Homo sapiens: one gene and its partners. The protein of the gene in region 4 interacts with the protein of the main gene of each other region in a pairwise test. Each region holds a gene or a part of one and is shown on either strand. Other genes may lie near its edges.

Region 1 (3,621 bases), about 62 Mb from region 4:
TATTTAGGAAGACATCTTTGTCTTTTTTCAGAGTGTGAGGAGCACAACAGCCTCAAGGAAATGGTCCTGATGGAGGGGCTGTGCTCTGAGCAGGGACGCCGGGGCTCAACACTGGCTAGTTCCTCTGAGAGGAAGCCCTTGGAGAACCAGCTAGGGAAGCAGGAAGAGTTCCGGGTATATGGAAAGTCAGAAAACATCTTGGTCCTACGAAAGGACATCAAAGATCTGAAGGCCCAGCTGCAGAATGCCAACAAGGTCATTCAAAACCTCAAGAGCCGGGTCCGGTCCCTCTCAGTTACAAGTGATTATTCGTCTAGTCTGGAAAGACCCCGGAAGCTGAGAGCTGTTGGCACCTTGGAGGGGTCTTCACCTCATAGTGTCCCTGATGAGGATGAGGGGTGGCTGTCTGATGGCACTGGGGCTTTCTACTCTCCAGGGCTTCAGGCCAAAAAGGACCTGGAGAGTCTCATCCAGAGAGTATCCCAGCTGGAGGCCCAGCTCCCAAAAAATGGACTAGAAGAGAAGCTGGCTGAGGAGCTGAGATCAGCCTCGTGGCCTGGGTAAGGATGGCACTGTTTGGGTACTTTCTTGATTGAAAATGTGTAAGTTCATGCTTGGCGTAGGGTAGCTCAGGCAGTTGGAAGAAAGAACATGTCTGGGTATTCACAGGGACACTGATTTAAATGGTAGATACAGGTCTGCAGAAAAGACAGGTAGGCAACCAGGAGGGCATAGGATGATGTTCCAGTATCTGGGAGATACCGGGTCTCAGGGATTTCCTCTTAGGGATATATTAGTAAAGATGGTATAGTATAGTAGTAATACTGGAATCAGACTACCTACCTCTGGTGCTTACTACCCATGCAACCTTCTTAACCTTTCTGAGCCTTTGTCCTTACCTATTAAATGAGGATGATAAGAGAACCCATCTCAAAGGGTGGATATTAGGTTTAAATGAATTAATACAACTGCTGACCAGGCGTGGTGGCTCATGCCTGTAATCCCAGCACTTTGGGAGGCCAAGGCAGGTAGAACACCTGAGGTCAGGTGTTCGAGACCAGCCTACCCAACACGGTGAAACCCCATCTCTACTAAAAATACAAAGATTAGCTGGGCATGGTGGTGCACACCTGTAATCCCAGCTATTCGGGAGGCTGAGGCAGGAGAATCGCTTGAACCTGGCAGGTGGAGGTTGCAGTGAGCCGAGATGGCACCACTGCACTCCAGCCTGGGTGACAGAGCAAGAGTCTGTCTCGGAAAAAAAAAAAAAAGAATTAATACAAGTGCTTAGAATAGTGCCTAGCATATGTTAAGCTCTCAATGCTATTTGCCATAGTTATAAGTGTTATTGATACTTAGTGTTGAAAACACAGACATTCATCTTGGTGTGTCCTGGTTATCTATTGCTAAGTAATAACCACTCTAAAACTTAGTGACTTCAAACAACACTTTATTATGCTTCATGGTTCTATGGTTTGACTGGGCTCAGCTGGGTGGTTCTCACTTAGGGTCTCTTGTTTTGGGTCCCATCAGTTGATGGTATGAGCGTTTAAATGATGGCCATCATTGCAAAATGTAGTCAGCCACAGTATCGTAACATAGAAGAAATTCAGGCATCAGGTGGTGGTTAAAACAGAAGGCATGAAAGGTTCTATCTAGACTTAGGATGAAATGATGCTAATTATTCATTGAGTAACTGCTGTGAATCTATGTGATACTGGTGCTGTAAGGGATGTAAAATGCAGAACTATGTTTATTCTCACAGACCTTATGATTTATCTAGGGACATATAATTAACACATGTATAACAGTTGAAGAACAGTGACATACTAAATTTTTTTTTGATACGGAGTCACTCTGTCATCCAGGCTGGAGTGCAGTGGTGCCGTCTTGGCTAACTACAACCTCCACCTCCTAGGTTCAAGCAATTCTCCTGCCTCAGCCTCCCGAGTAGCTGGGATTACAGGCATGTGCCACTATGCTCAGCTCATTTTTTTTGTATTTTTAGTAGAGGCAGGGTTTCACCATATTGGCGAGGCTGGTCTCAAACTCCTGACCTTGTGATCTGCCTGCCTTGGCCTCCCAAAGTGCTGGGATTACAGGCGTGAGCTACCACGCCCGGCCCGTACTAAGTTTTTTAATGCAATACTTTATCAGGGTAGAATTTACTCTTAAATACCTCCTATGGCTTATGTGCCAGAATTCAGCTTGGGGGAGTTCCTTAGAGATGTTCTCATAGAAATCTCTACAGAAGCCCCCATAACTCCATAAGTTAGCTTCCACTCTTTCCATACTTACACTTTCCTCTTCTGTCCTGCATTAGGAAATATGATTCCCTGATTCAGGATCAGGCCCGGGAACTGTCTTACCTACGGCAAAAAATACGAGAAGGGAGAGGTATTTGTTATCTTATCACCCGGCATGCAAAAGATACAGTAAAATCTTTTGAGGATCTCCTAAGGAGCAATGACATTGACTACTACCTGGGACAGAGCTTCCGGGAGCAACTCGCCCAGGGAAGCCAGCTGACAGAGAGGCTCACCAGCAAACTCAGCACCAGTAAGTTGGCCACAGGGCTTTGGAATACTCTCAGTCACCCCCACAGTTCCAGCCCCTGGTGGCCACCACATCTCCACTGCAACTTTTTATCCTAAGGTCCTGTTTCTATTTCATTTCCTGGGGCTAATACAGGATCAAGACTGCTCAGTGGGGAGCATGGAGAGGAAAACACAGGGCTGGAGATGCCATGGTTACAACTATAGAAACTTCACCACTAATGGAATGTGACCTGTGGGGCAGGGGCAGCATCTCTCTGATGCTAAGAGGGAGTAGGGGACATGAGATGGAAGGGCTTTGTTATAGGAGGAAGAGCCCTGAACCAAGAACTACAAGACTCAAGCTCTGGCCTGGATGCTGCCACCAACTCGCTAAATGCCTTATCCTTGTGGTGTCTCCATTTATGGCATGGTAATGTGCATGCAGGTACTCCACATATGGATAAAGCGCCATGCTCTTTTATACATGGTTTAGGCACTGGCTGCAGTAGTTCAAGGGCTACATTGGTTATTATTGGGGTCTTCTACTCAGAATTTCCAGCGACTATCCAAGGGAGTAAAGTAGGATCAGACTTGGGAGCCACCCAGCCCACCACCTGGTGGCAGATGCAGAGGTGGGGCAGGGCTTCTTGTCATCTCCTCAGAGACCAGTGCAGGTTCTGCATGAAAGCTGTGGTGGGGCATATGCATTGGGGAGCTAGTCTGCAGCAGGACATGGAGGCTGGAGTGTCCCGCAGGGCAGCTGGGCAAGGGCCTCATGATTAATGGAACAAAAGACATTATAAATGTTTTACCCTGATTTAGGGCAGAGGAAGTCATCATGGTGACCGGCAGGTCAGGGACAGTGGGGTCACTTCTCTAGAGACACAAGCTGAGGTATCCCAGAATAACTGTTCTGGATGCACACATGAAATGCTCACTACTCTGTCTCCAGATAGGCTCCTGCATTTGTAATGCGGGAAGTGGGACCAGCCTAATTTCTTATCGTCTCTTTCTAAATTTGGTTTACAGAGGATCATAAAAGTGAGAAAGATCAAGCTGGACTTGAGCCACTGGCCCTCAGGTA
Region 2 (3,621 bases), on a different chromosome or scaffold from region 4:
TAAGATCATCTATAGAATTCCAGCTAATGAATACACAAAGAACGGTGAAACTAGAAAATCACGACTTTGCAGCCAGGCTTGGTGGCTCACGCCTGTAATCCCAGCACTTGGGGAGGCCAAGGCAGGCAGATCACCTGAAGTCAAGAGTTGGAGACCAGCCTGGCTAACATGACGAAACCCCGTTTCTACTAAAAACACAAAAAATTAGCCGGGTGTGGTGGCACCCACCTGTAATCCCAGCTACTCAGGAGGCTGAGGCAGGAGAATCACTTGAACCCGGGAGGTGGAGGTTGCAGTGAGCTGAGATCGCGTCATTGTACTCCAGCTTGGGCAACAAGAGCGAAACTCCGTCTCAGAAAAGAAAATCACCACTTTGTAATCTCTAATAACTGATTTGACACTTTGGGAGGCTGAGGCAGGTGGATCGCTTGAGACTAGGAGTTCAAGACCAGCCTGGGCAACATAGGGAGACCCCATCTCTTTAAAAAAAAAAACTGATTTGAGCAATAATTATCAATGGTTGAAAGCCTGATGGGTTGGTGGGGAACTGGATATTCACAGAATACTAAGCTATCCTGAACGTATTACTTCCTCATCATAAGGGGGAAATGCAACTTTGCAAAGGAGGAATCAGATTGTAATCACTGAACCCATTGATCAACCTTTCAATAGCATTATTGAAAGTAGGAAAGTCAGATGTTATATACTTCCTGATATGACACAATATAGCTACACAGCCTTCCCTATAAAGTATTCATGCCAAAAATATTGAAGCTTAATCTTATCAAGCCTTTAGTTTAAATTATAGGAGACAGAACAAACTAATGACACTACAAGGAAGACATCACACTAATTCAAATCATTGTCATAGAAATAAAAGTGGAGGGGAGGGGAGAACTGTTCTAGATTAGAAGTTCAAGAAACATAAAACCCAAATGAAGTTGTAGACCTTCTTTGGATCCTGATAAACCATTCAAAAATTTGAGGCTGGGCATGGTAGCTCACGCCTGTAATCACAGCACTTTGGGAGGCCGAGGCAGGCGAATCACTGGTCAGGAGTTCAGGACCAGCCTGGCCAACATGGTGAAACCCTGTCTCTACTAAAAATACAAAAAATTAGCTGGGCATGGTGGTGGGTGCCTGTAATCCCAGCTACTCGGGAGGCTGAGGCAGGAGAATCACTTGAACCCAGGAGGCGAAGTTTACAGTGAGCCGAGATTGCGCCACCACACTCCAGCCCGGATGACACTGCAAGACTCCGTCTCAAAAAAAAAAAATTTGAATATGGACTATGTATTAGATAATATCAATGAATTCATTTATTTTGTTAGGTGTGATATGGCATGGTGGTTTTGTAAGAATATGGTTTTTTTTTTGACCGGGCAAGGGGGCTCATGCCTGTAATCCCAGCACTTTGGGAGGCTGAGGCAGGTGAATCACCTGAGGCCAGGAGTTTGAGGCCAGCCTGGCCAACATGGTGAAACCCCATACTAAAAATACAATAATTAGCCTGGCGTGGTAGCAGGTGCCTGTAATCCCAGCTACTTGGGAGGCTGAGGCAGAGAATCACTTGAACCTGGGAGGCAGAGGTTGCAGTGAGCTGAGATTGCGCCACTGCACTCCAGCCTGGGCAACAGAGCAAGACTCCGTCTCAAAAAAAAAAAAGAATATGTTCTTTTTAAGGAATATATACTTAAGTATTTCAGCGTGAAATGTCATATCTGGGGATTTAAATTATCTTAGAAGATATGAGGAGGAATATCAACAGAATCTGAAGCAGCAGTCAGTGAAGTAAGAAGAAAATCCGGAGAGCAAGGGCTCCTTGGAAGACTAATGAATCATGTGTTTCATGGAGAAGTGATTAACTTCGTCAAGTACTACTGGTCGAGGTAGATGAAGATTGAGAATTGACTGTTGGATTTAGTTATATGAATGTCATTGGTGACTTTGATAAAAGCAGTTTGTGTAAAGTGATGGGGTGAAAACCTGATTGGGACGAGTTCAACAGAAGTTAGGAGAAAAGAAATAGGAAATGACAAGTGTAGACAATGATATGACACCTGGAATTTTGCTGTAAAGGAAAGAGAAGAAATGGAGCAATAACTGGAAATGAAAATAGGATCAAGAGAGGATTTTTTTTTTTAACAATGAAAGAATTGGTGGGCTGAAGTCCTTATACCAGTGAGTGACAAGGGATGAGATCTTTTGCACAAATGGAGGGGTTGTGCCTTAGCTAGAAGCATGGAGAGTTCATCCATACTAACAGGACAGAAGGCAAAGAACACAGAGGGAATAATGCTGGGAAGTAGGTTGATATGGAAGAAGCTTCTGGAAACTGTCTTCTGATTGCTTCTATCAACCCAGTGAAATTGGAAGCAAGAGAGATGAGGGTGAGATGTTGAGGGTCTGAAAAGCAAGAAGGCATGAAACAGGCATCTAGTACAATGGATGAGTGAATACATTAGAGAAATGTACTATGATTGCCAGGCAGCATGAAGGGCCTGCTTGACATCGATATTGATGGATTTCAAGTAAGACCAGTCACATGATTGTTTCTTCAACCATGTTCATCTGAGAGGGCCAGAGTTGGATTTAGCAAAATGTATTAGTTTCCTATTGCTGCCGTTACAAATCATCACAAATGTTAAAACAACACAAAGTATTATCTTTTATCTTACAGGTTATATCTTGCAGGTTATATAGGTTAGAAGTCTGACACAGGTCTCACTGGGCTAAAATTAAGGTTGCAGCAAGGCTGTGTTCCTTTCTGGAGGCTCTAGGGGGAGAATGTGCTTCTTGCTTTTCCAGCTTCCAGAGGCCATACACATTCCTTGGTTCATAGCCCCTTCCCCCATCTACCGAGCCAGGTAGGATAGGTTGAATCCTTCTCACACTGAGTCACTATGACCTCCTCTTCTGCCTCCCTCTTCCACTTTTTTTTTTTTTTTTTTTTTTGGAGATGGAGTTTCACTTTTGTAGCCTAGGCTGGAGTGCAACGGTGCGATCTCAGCTCACTGCAACCTCCACCTCCTGGGTTCAAGCAATTCTCCTGCCTCAGCCTCCTGGGTAGCTGGGATTACAGGCGTGTACCACCACGTCCAGCTTATTTTTCTATTTTTGTAGAAACGGTTTCATCACGTTGGCCAGGCTGGTCTCGAACTCCTGACCTCAGGTGATCCACCCACCTTGGCCTCCCCAAGTGCTGGGATTACAGGCGTGAGCCACCACACCCAGCCCCTCTTCCACTTTTAAGCACCCTGTGATTACACTGGGCTCACCCAGATATTCCAATTTCCCTATTTTAGGGTCAGCTGGTTAGTGACCTTAATTCCTCTCTACCATATGAGGGTAACATATTCACAGGGTTCAGAAATTAGTATGTGGATATCCTCGGGAGGCCATTACTCTGCTTACCATACGAAGGCTATGGTCTTGCCAAGCCAGTATAATTAAGTGTGAAAGAGAAAAAAAATAAGTTAAAGTTGTATACAAGGAAGCCTCCACAATTATTGACTCTGAACTTCAAACTATGTAAGGAGAGAAGTGAGAACCTGAGGGGTGTGCAACAGTGAAAAGATGGAATCAATGAACTATAGGTCCCAACAATATCAAACATTTGTT
Region 3 (4,112 bases), 3.3 Mb from region 4:
CAATCCTTTTAGTACCCAGGAAACAGACCATTTCCTGGAAGGGGACTCGGGGCAACAGATATGGAGAATGTAAGAAAGAGAAATGATTAACAGATCAGAAACAGATCTCACTGTCTGACATTCAAGTTTCTTCATGATCTTTCACCATGTATCCAAACAGTAGATGAGCACTTCTTAGCTGAACCTTTATGTGGCTTTCTCTTTGCCTATCAGAATCCTTCCAGTCTCTGAGACTGATTTAATTCACTTCAACCCATGAAGACTTTCCTGATCCTCTGATCATCCAAGGCTCTACTATTTCTCTTTTCTCTTAAGGTACCGCTATAGCAGTAGGTCTGCACCACCCTTTTCTGGTATTAAGCCAATTCTAAGTTATTTGTTAATTACTCACGTGTAAGTAAAATTTCCCCTGCTAGACTTTAAGTTCCTTGAAGTGGGGAATTTAGATGGTTTGCAGACTGTAGTCATTGGACAGAGGAGAGAGAGCAGTTCTAAAGCCAAGTTGGTATTATATTCATACTCTCAGTGATGTCATCTAAGTAAAATGTGCTGTCTCTGTTTTAAAATGTTGCTGCTGACCATCCATCACCAGGACATGCACTTTCCTTTTTTTTTTTTTAACAGCAGTGGTATTGTATTTTTGCTTATTCATTCATGCCAGTTCTGCTGTCCCCCTTAGGATTAAACAGATTGGATTACAAGATGCCTTGCCAAGGTTCAGGATATAGGTTATAGCCATGTAAAGAACAAAATGAAATGACTTTTAGGAATCAAACTCAAGACTCTTCACAAGACCCCACTTCTCATACTCTTGTTTGAACAACAAATATAAATTTGTGCCTCCATTTTATGTCCTTATTTAGGCAGTGGACTTTATCAATACCCCCGTTAACTTGAAAAAGAATTCTCCAATGCAAATGGTTCAATACTTTAGAAATGACATACTAAGATGACTCTGTTCCTGCCTACCATCAATACTATGTGAGTATTTAGAGATAATGAGCATCTGTACTATAGCAACCTGCCTCTTGAGACATAAACAAGAGATGCATTTCTTAAGAAAAAATCTGTAAGTCGCTAATGAAAGCAAGTCAAAGGACCCATCAACGGGCGAAGAAAGACCTAGCATCCATTATTTTTACAGAAGGAGCATAGAAGGTCAATATAATTGTTGACTCTTAACGGCAGGGTAACAACAAACTAATTCAGTTTCCCACTATATAAGAACTACATTTTACTACAACACTCATATTTCTAAACTGACTAAGAGTCAAGGCTTGTCCAAATTCCATGGCTTACTGAGTGGTCTTGAACCTTCTCTGAATTTTGTTCCTTAGTCTGTAAAATGGAGTTATCACCTGTTATGCAATATCACAGAGTTGTAATGAATCAAGTAACATTATCTTAGTATGGGTTCACCTGTCACCCTATTGTGGGGTGCAGTTCAGTCGCACACCTCATGAACTAAGTAACTATTATTACTGTAAATGTCTCCCTAACATTTAAGACAGAAAAAGATTTCCAGAGTTCTTCTTACGTTTTTAATCGACTTCTCCAACACTTGAGCATCCACCAAATATCACTGCCAAAAATGTGCTGAACATCTCCTGTTATGACCTCACTCTCCTATGTAGTGTTGTTCACATATTTTTTGCCATAAGCTTTCTAAGAAAATAGATTATTTTTCACATGATTCAAAGCATCTTTCTTTCATATTGAAGGAGCAATAATTCCTTATGCAGAAAGTTTACAGGTTGTTGTTGCTGTTGTTTGAGATTACTCCTCAATTAATTAATTCTATGTTTAATATCTAATAGAGCATATATATGTACACTTGGACACACTCCATTAATACAGTGGAAAATCCATGGACTATAGAGTCAGGAAAACCTATATTCGAATTCCTGTTCTGTGACCTTGAGAATGTAATTTAACTTCCCTGCTCCTCAGTTTCCACATTTGGTTCTGGATTATGATGATTTAATAAAATACGATATATAAAAGTAAGTGCCTAGGCTATGAAGGTATTATTTCCTACCTCTCCTAAATCTTTTCTTTCTATGCCAGGATCAATCAAACCCACCCAGAATACAAGGCAACTTTCATAGGGTATCTTTTACATCAGTCGAGGGAACGCTGCGATGTGATATAAGTGGATGATGGCATGAGTCAGGCATCCAACAGAGCAAGATGTGGAGAAAGTGAGAGGTACCTACAAGGGCCCTAGACTTCACTCGCATGTGCGAAAAGGGCATTTTGATACCCTTTCAAGAATGCCCCGCATACTCGCGGAGGCTTATACCACGATGTGGGAAAACGACGGAATTACAGAATAAACCAGCAGGGAGCCTCCTCGTTCACCCAACCCGACCCCGCCCGCCCGAGTCTCCCATCTGGAGCCTAAAAACTGAGCTGAGATCACAGCAACTGACCCCGTCCCCTCCGCCCTCTCCCTCCCCCATTCTGCCCAAACCTCTCAGGGCACGAATGGTGCTGAATCATTTGCACGAACGCAGCAGCTCCCCGTTCCGCGGCTCCCAGCGGGGACGGTGTCCCCAGAGCAGTGACAGTCCGGGGATGGGGGCCCGGAAAGAGGGCCAGGGCGGAGCCTTTGGGGACGTGGGGACATGGAAGGGGGTCGGGGGAGGATGGCGGCAGCAGGTACTCACCCGGGTGAGGAAAGCCCAGCCCGGGTCCTCGCGTCCCCGCTGCAAGCGGTCCCCCAGGTGCTCCCGCGCCTCGCAGCTTCCCCGTGGGCGGCCGCCCCGACTCGGCAGCCTGCACTGGTGGTCCGGTGCTCTCCTCCGCCCGCCCACCGCCCGTGGCAGCCACGGCTCGGGACTCCGGTGCTCGACGCGGAGTGCCTGGAACAGCTGTCGCTGCCCAAGCGGGTGGCGGCTACCGACGGGCCAGACCATTCGCCTGCTGCGGCCGGGGGTGCACGACGTGCCGAGAGGCGCGGGCGCCGGGGGCGGCGACGGTTGGGAGGAACAAAGGACTCGGGGAATCCTCTGCCCCCTCGGAGTCAGGAGGTCCTGGGGACAGGAGGGATCAACGGAGGGGCCGCTGCCTCTTCTGGGGGTTTACTGAAGACACTGCTCGAGCTTTCCCGGGCCACACACACCCCCCCCCCGTTTGCCTTGGTCCCGCTCGGGGCTCCTTTAGAACGCGGCAAACAGAGGACTTAGCAACGCGAGCGCCTGGGCGGCGCCCCTCCTCAGAGATGCGAGAGGCGCTGGCCTGAGCGCCTCCGGCCACCTCCTTCTACCTCCGGGCCCTAGGCGCCCGATCCACCTGCCTATCTGACCACAGACATCTTCCCACAAAACAGTGGAGCTTTTTGAATCTTTGAAGAGAGTCTTCAGATCTTTTATCTAAGCATCTTTGTGAAGCAAAGAATAAACGGGTATCTGAGGCCAGCTCGAAAGTTAGGAAATAAAATCAGGTGGGGCCCCATCCCGTAGATGCTGAGGGACAGCTCTGACCTAGAGTTCCTGCTAAGCAAATGTTGAACCACGGCAGTTGTAAAAAAATGTAGATTTAGGAAGCCATTTCGAGATAAAGATTTACAGAAGATTGTTGCAGAAATTAAAGAATATTCGAGGTTCATTGTTCACCATTTTAGAGTTGCGTGTCTTGAAAACGGGAAGGCAATCATGTCTTCTCATAAAATGAATTGTATAGAACTGGAAGAAGTCCTAACACATGAATTCCTTAGACTTTTGTGGTCCCTGCTTCTGTCACGCTGGGTTCACACAGGTTCATTTCAGAGCATGGTGAAGATCAGGACAAGTGTACAGTTTTCCCTGTAGAAAAAAAGAAAAGATAGAACAGAATTGGCAACTACCTATAAAATGTGATTAAAGGTAGGAAAAAAAAAGGCCCTCCAAGTGCATCCCAAAAAATATAAAATTTCACAATTTAAAGTTTTGTCCTTCGTTGAGTAAATCAACATAAATTCAGCACTTTCTATAGACCACTGTGCTGAGAATAGTCTCATTTTCATTTCTTCATTTATTCTTCTAAAAACTCCTGTGAGATTGGTAACCTGCAATAGACCTCCATACAGCCTTGCCAGCATTGGGAACTGATCTGGTCAGTGAGGGCATCTT
Region 4 (3,621 bases):
TAAACAAAATAGTGGACACTCAAGTATTTATAAACACAAAAGACTTACTGTGATATAGAAGTGTAACGAAATGCTGTTAACAGAATATTCTTGACTTATAGAAAGGACCCTGTTAGAAACTACTTTGTACCCCTGCCAATAATGGCGTGGTTAAGTAATTTGAAGAATACCTTACTGGCCCAGAGCTAAATAAATATACACTCCACCTCCCTCAACTCCTTCAAATTTAAAGTGAGCTTGTTATTCAACAACAATAAAAACTAAATTTCTTCAAAATACAGAAGAGAAAAAGCAGTGTTTAAACCCAAACACCATTAAATATTTTTTCTTTTAAGTTTTTATTATTTAAATACACCATACTAGAGCAAATGTCTCTGAAAATATCACAAATAAAAGATTTTTTTTTTTCTTCATTCAGCAAATTAGAAGTAGGGGGAATTTTCTACACAGTAGCTGCTATGAGCCTGATTTTTTTTTCCAAATTTTTTTCTTTTTTTCATTCTTTTTTTTTTCTTTGCCATGGGAGTAGCAACATTAGGACAAAAACACTTACATGCATACATACATTGTATTTTACAGAGATACAATAAGTGTTTGTGATAGAATATCACAAAAGCCACATCTCTTTCCTTTATCTCATGGTCAGTTTTGATTGAAACACGTTTCCTTACAACACTTAAATATACAAAGAGCAAATAGAATGTTGTTAAGGTAAAACACAGGGTACAAACTCTGGCCAGTGCCCTGCTAATTGTTAATGAGGGTAGAAAGCAGATTTGAATGCTTCTTTTAATTAGCTTCATTAGTCATTTCCCTCCCCCCCAGCTCCCTCCCCCTCCCCAAGATGTCCTCTGGTGGATCTTTTTTCATTTTCTCTACAGTCTCCCATTAGCCCAGGTTCATGGAGTCCTTAATGTTCATATTCAGTCATTTTAATACACCAATAAATGCGGGAAGGGCAATCAAGACTAAAGAAGGTGCAATGGCATGGAGCTGGCACTGGTGCTAGCTACAAAGGTGACTTGTCTACTGAAGACACATGGGATCCACCTGTGATGAACAAATCTGAGATGAAGGCACGCATTCTGCATTACTCTGACCTTTTAGCAGACCTGCAAGAAATAAAAACGGGCATCTTAGCTAAAATGCTAAATTTGAGAGATATTAAACTCAAACATGACTGCTTTTGTCTTCCCCACATTCACTAATCTTCTTTTATTAGATTACTTTCCAACTGTGACTTGATAGAGGCTTTCTATGCTACTTACTCTGGCAGTGAAGAACTAAAGCATAACATTTTCTGCAGTTTTACTAGCAAAGAAAATGAGACAGTAAATGGACGCTCAGAAAGTTTCTGGTGTAAAGTACTACAATTAATTGCTTAACTCTGTTAAGAGCAAGTGTCTTTCCAAAAGGAATGTAACATCTTGCCCAGCAGTGGGATCTTGAATTTTTTAAATAGCGGGGACATTCCAAGACAAGTTCCTACCTAGGAAGTTTTGGGTTCATATGCTTAACCGTGTAACCTTTTGGAATGTTGCTTAAACTGCTTGTGTCTCAGTTTCCTCATCTTTAAAGAAGGGATAATGACACTGTTATGATAATTACATAATACATATGGGAGCACTTTCAACAGTGCTTGGCCCTTAATAAAAGTTCAACAAATACTGGCAGTTATCATTATTATTCCGATATCCCCATGTGAAAAATATTCACCCATATTGGTACTACCTATAGGTGTGTGTCTATATGAAAATTTCTATGTACAAATATTCACATATTTTTCACTATTTCTTATCTGCTATGTCACTTAATAGCTACACAAATATGTGATTCAATACATGCAATGTGTTAATGACCTGTGATAGATAAAAGAACATAGTTCAATGCAAGGGTGGCTTCAATGTCTAAGTCAGAAATGGAAATCCACACACTTGTCAAATACAATCTGTTTGCAATTACCAAAATGAAATAATACATATTAGGTTGTTATGGTTTTTAAATGACATTTTGAGCCTCCCAGGAAGTTCTCGTTTCACCCTTTCCCTAACTTACAAAAAGCCTGTAGTCTATTAGGAACTGCAACCCCCTACTTCCAAGCTAATTAAAGTGGTGAAGGCTTAATTCCCCAGAGTGGAAGCTCAGTGTGAGAAAGGTAATTTGTCTGTCCAGAACAAAGATGCAGCAGCAGCCAGCAAGCATATTTAATAAATGAGCATCAAATGTCTTCTACGATGGACACACACAACACCAATTATGTAACTATGGGGGAACTGCGAAGTGACATGTAGACTAGAACACTCACTAAATTTTCCTCCAACTAAAGAGATGTGATCTAACTCCTGTTCCACTGAAAACTGAAAAGCACAGGTAATTCTAGATGGCACCATCACACTTTTGAGTGGAAGAAAAAAATTCCAGAACAGGCAGCAATCTACAAAAGAAAAAATTAGCCACAATTCCTGATTTACATAACCCTCTAGAAGGCAGCATTCTCCCAAAGCTAGCCAAGCCTCCTTTAAGTGATATAGGTTATAAAATGTTGTAGATCCTTGAACACTAGTGGCCTGAGATTTCAGTCCATCTGAAATGCAAGATTTCAATCACTGTATGATTTAAAAGCTTAAAATTATTTTTCTTGGAATATACAACAGCCAATGATGCAGAACAACAACTACACTACACAGCCCAGACCCTGGGAACAAATCTCAGAATAAAAGTTTAAAGGGACCAGACAATGGGGGCCTATGTTTTCCATGCAATTAACTGCCTTTAAAGAAGGGATGTTCGAATAATCAACTCATTGCTTTTAAGCCAGAGGATCCTTGAGTATATTTACCACGCATAATACACCAAAAATGTAATTGATTCTGCGAATAGAAGGAAAATGGCCAAAATAAATGTCCAATTTTCCCTACCAAAAATATGGAGAACGAGAGAGGAGAAAATAATAAAACGAAGCCATTTGTCATTTCTCCCCATCTCATTGCCTCCAGAAAAGAAACGCCACAGGGTTTTGGGAAAATAATTTTAAAGCCTCTCCAGTTCCAAAAAGCAGTTTATGTTCCACCAGGAAGTATGTTTTCATTAACTCTTCCCCCTTGCCCTCTCATTAATATCTCTCTGGACCACGTTCAGCTTGCCCAAAACCTTTATTTATAAAAACTACCTTGTGAATTGACCGTGCTCATGGTGAGCTGGGCACCAAGGGCAAAAATGTGAGACACTTACGCCAACAGGGAAATGTTCTTAATTAACAGCACCCCCAAAACACAGCTTCTCACCAATGTCTGACAAGAACATTTCCATAAGTTGTATTTCCTTATGCCTTTTAAGAGCTATTAATTTTTGAAGGCCACCTGTCTCTTTTTTGGCCTCCAACATTAAGAAAACATACACTAATAGGTTCTTATTCATTGCCTAAAATATAGTGTTCCAAAATGAATACCCTACCACTGCCATCCTGGAAAAGGTGTGGAAAACAGATTTCAATGAAAGGCATAAGACATGTAATCTCATCAACAGGTAAACCTGGTTTTTCTGCAGTTCTCCTCCCTAACACCTCTAAATTTATGCCATCTTATACTATAAAAGATGGTATGAAATCCTGCTCATATTTCT

The links. The genes of interacting proteins can lie anywhere in the genome.
Region 1: the proteins of LMO4 (region 4) and PDE4DIP interact in binary tests that used the Homo sapiens proteins (3 or more experiments, as listed by UniProt).
Region 2: the proteins of LMO4 (region 4) and ERCC6L interact in binary tests that used the Homo sapiens proteins (3 or more experiments, as listed by UniProt).
Region 3: the proteins of LMO4 (region 4) and TTLL7 interact in binary tests that used the Homo sapiens proteins (3 or more experiments, as listed by UniProt).

What each region holds. Positions count from the first base shown.
Region 1 is NC_000001.11:149,004,878-149,008,498, forward strand, and holds part of PDE4DIP (myomegalin), read left to right. Parts: intron 1-31; coding exon 32-560; intron 561-2,323; coding exon 2,324-2,559; intron 2,560-3,566; coding exon 3,567-3,618; intron 3,619-3,621. UniProt on the Homo sapiens protein: Functions as an anchor sequestering components of the cAMP-dependent pathway to Golgi and/or centrosomes.
Region 2 is NC_000023.11:72,232,457-72,236,077, forward strand, and holds part of ERCC6L (DNA excision repair protein ERCC-6-like), read right to left. Parts: intron 1-3,621. UniProt on the Homo sapiens protein: DNA helicase that acts as a tension sensor that associates with catenated DNA which is stretched under tension until it is resolved during anaphase. Functions as ATP-dependent DNA translocase. Can promote Holliday junction branch migration (in vitro).
Region 3 is NC_000001.11:83,996,262-84,000,373, forward strand, and holds the start of TTLL7 (tubulin polyglutamylase TTLL7), read right to left. Parts: upstream 2,872-4,112; 5' UTR 2,670-2,871; intron 1-2,669. UniProt on the Homo sapiens protein: Polyglutamylase which modifies tubulin, generating polyglutamate side chains of variable lengths on the gamma-carboxyl group of specific glutamate residues within the C-terminal tail of tubulin.
Region 4 is NC_000001.11:87,342,279-87,345,899, reverse strand, and holds part of LMO4 (LIM domain transcription factor LMO4), read right to left. Parts: intron 1,113-3,621; coding exon 1,104-1,112; 3' UTR 1-1,103. UniProt on the Homo sapiens protein: Transcription cofactor. Plays a role in establishing motor neuron identity, in concert with MNX1, acting, at least in part, to disrupt LDB1-LHX3 complexes thereby negatively modulating interneuron genes in motor neurons.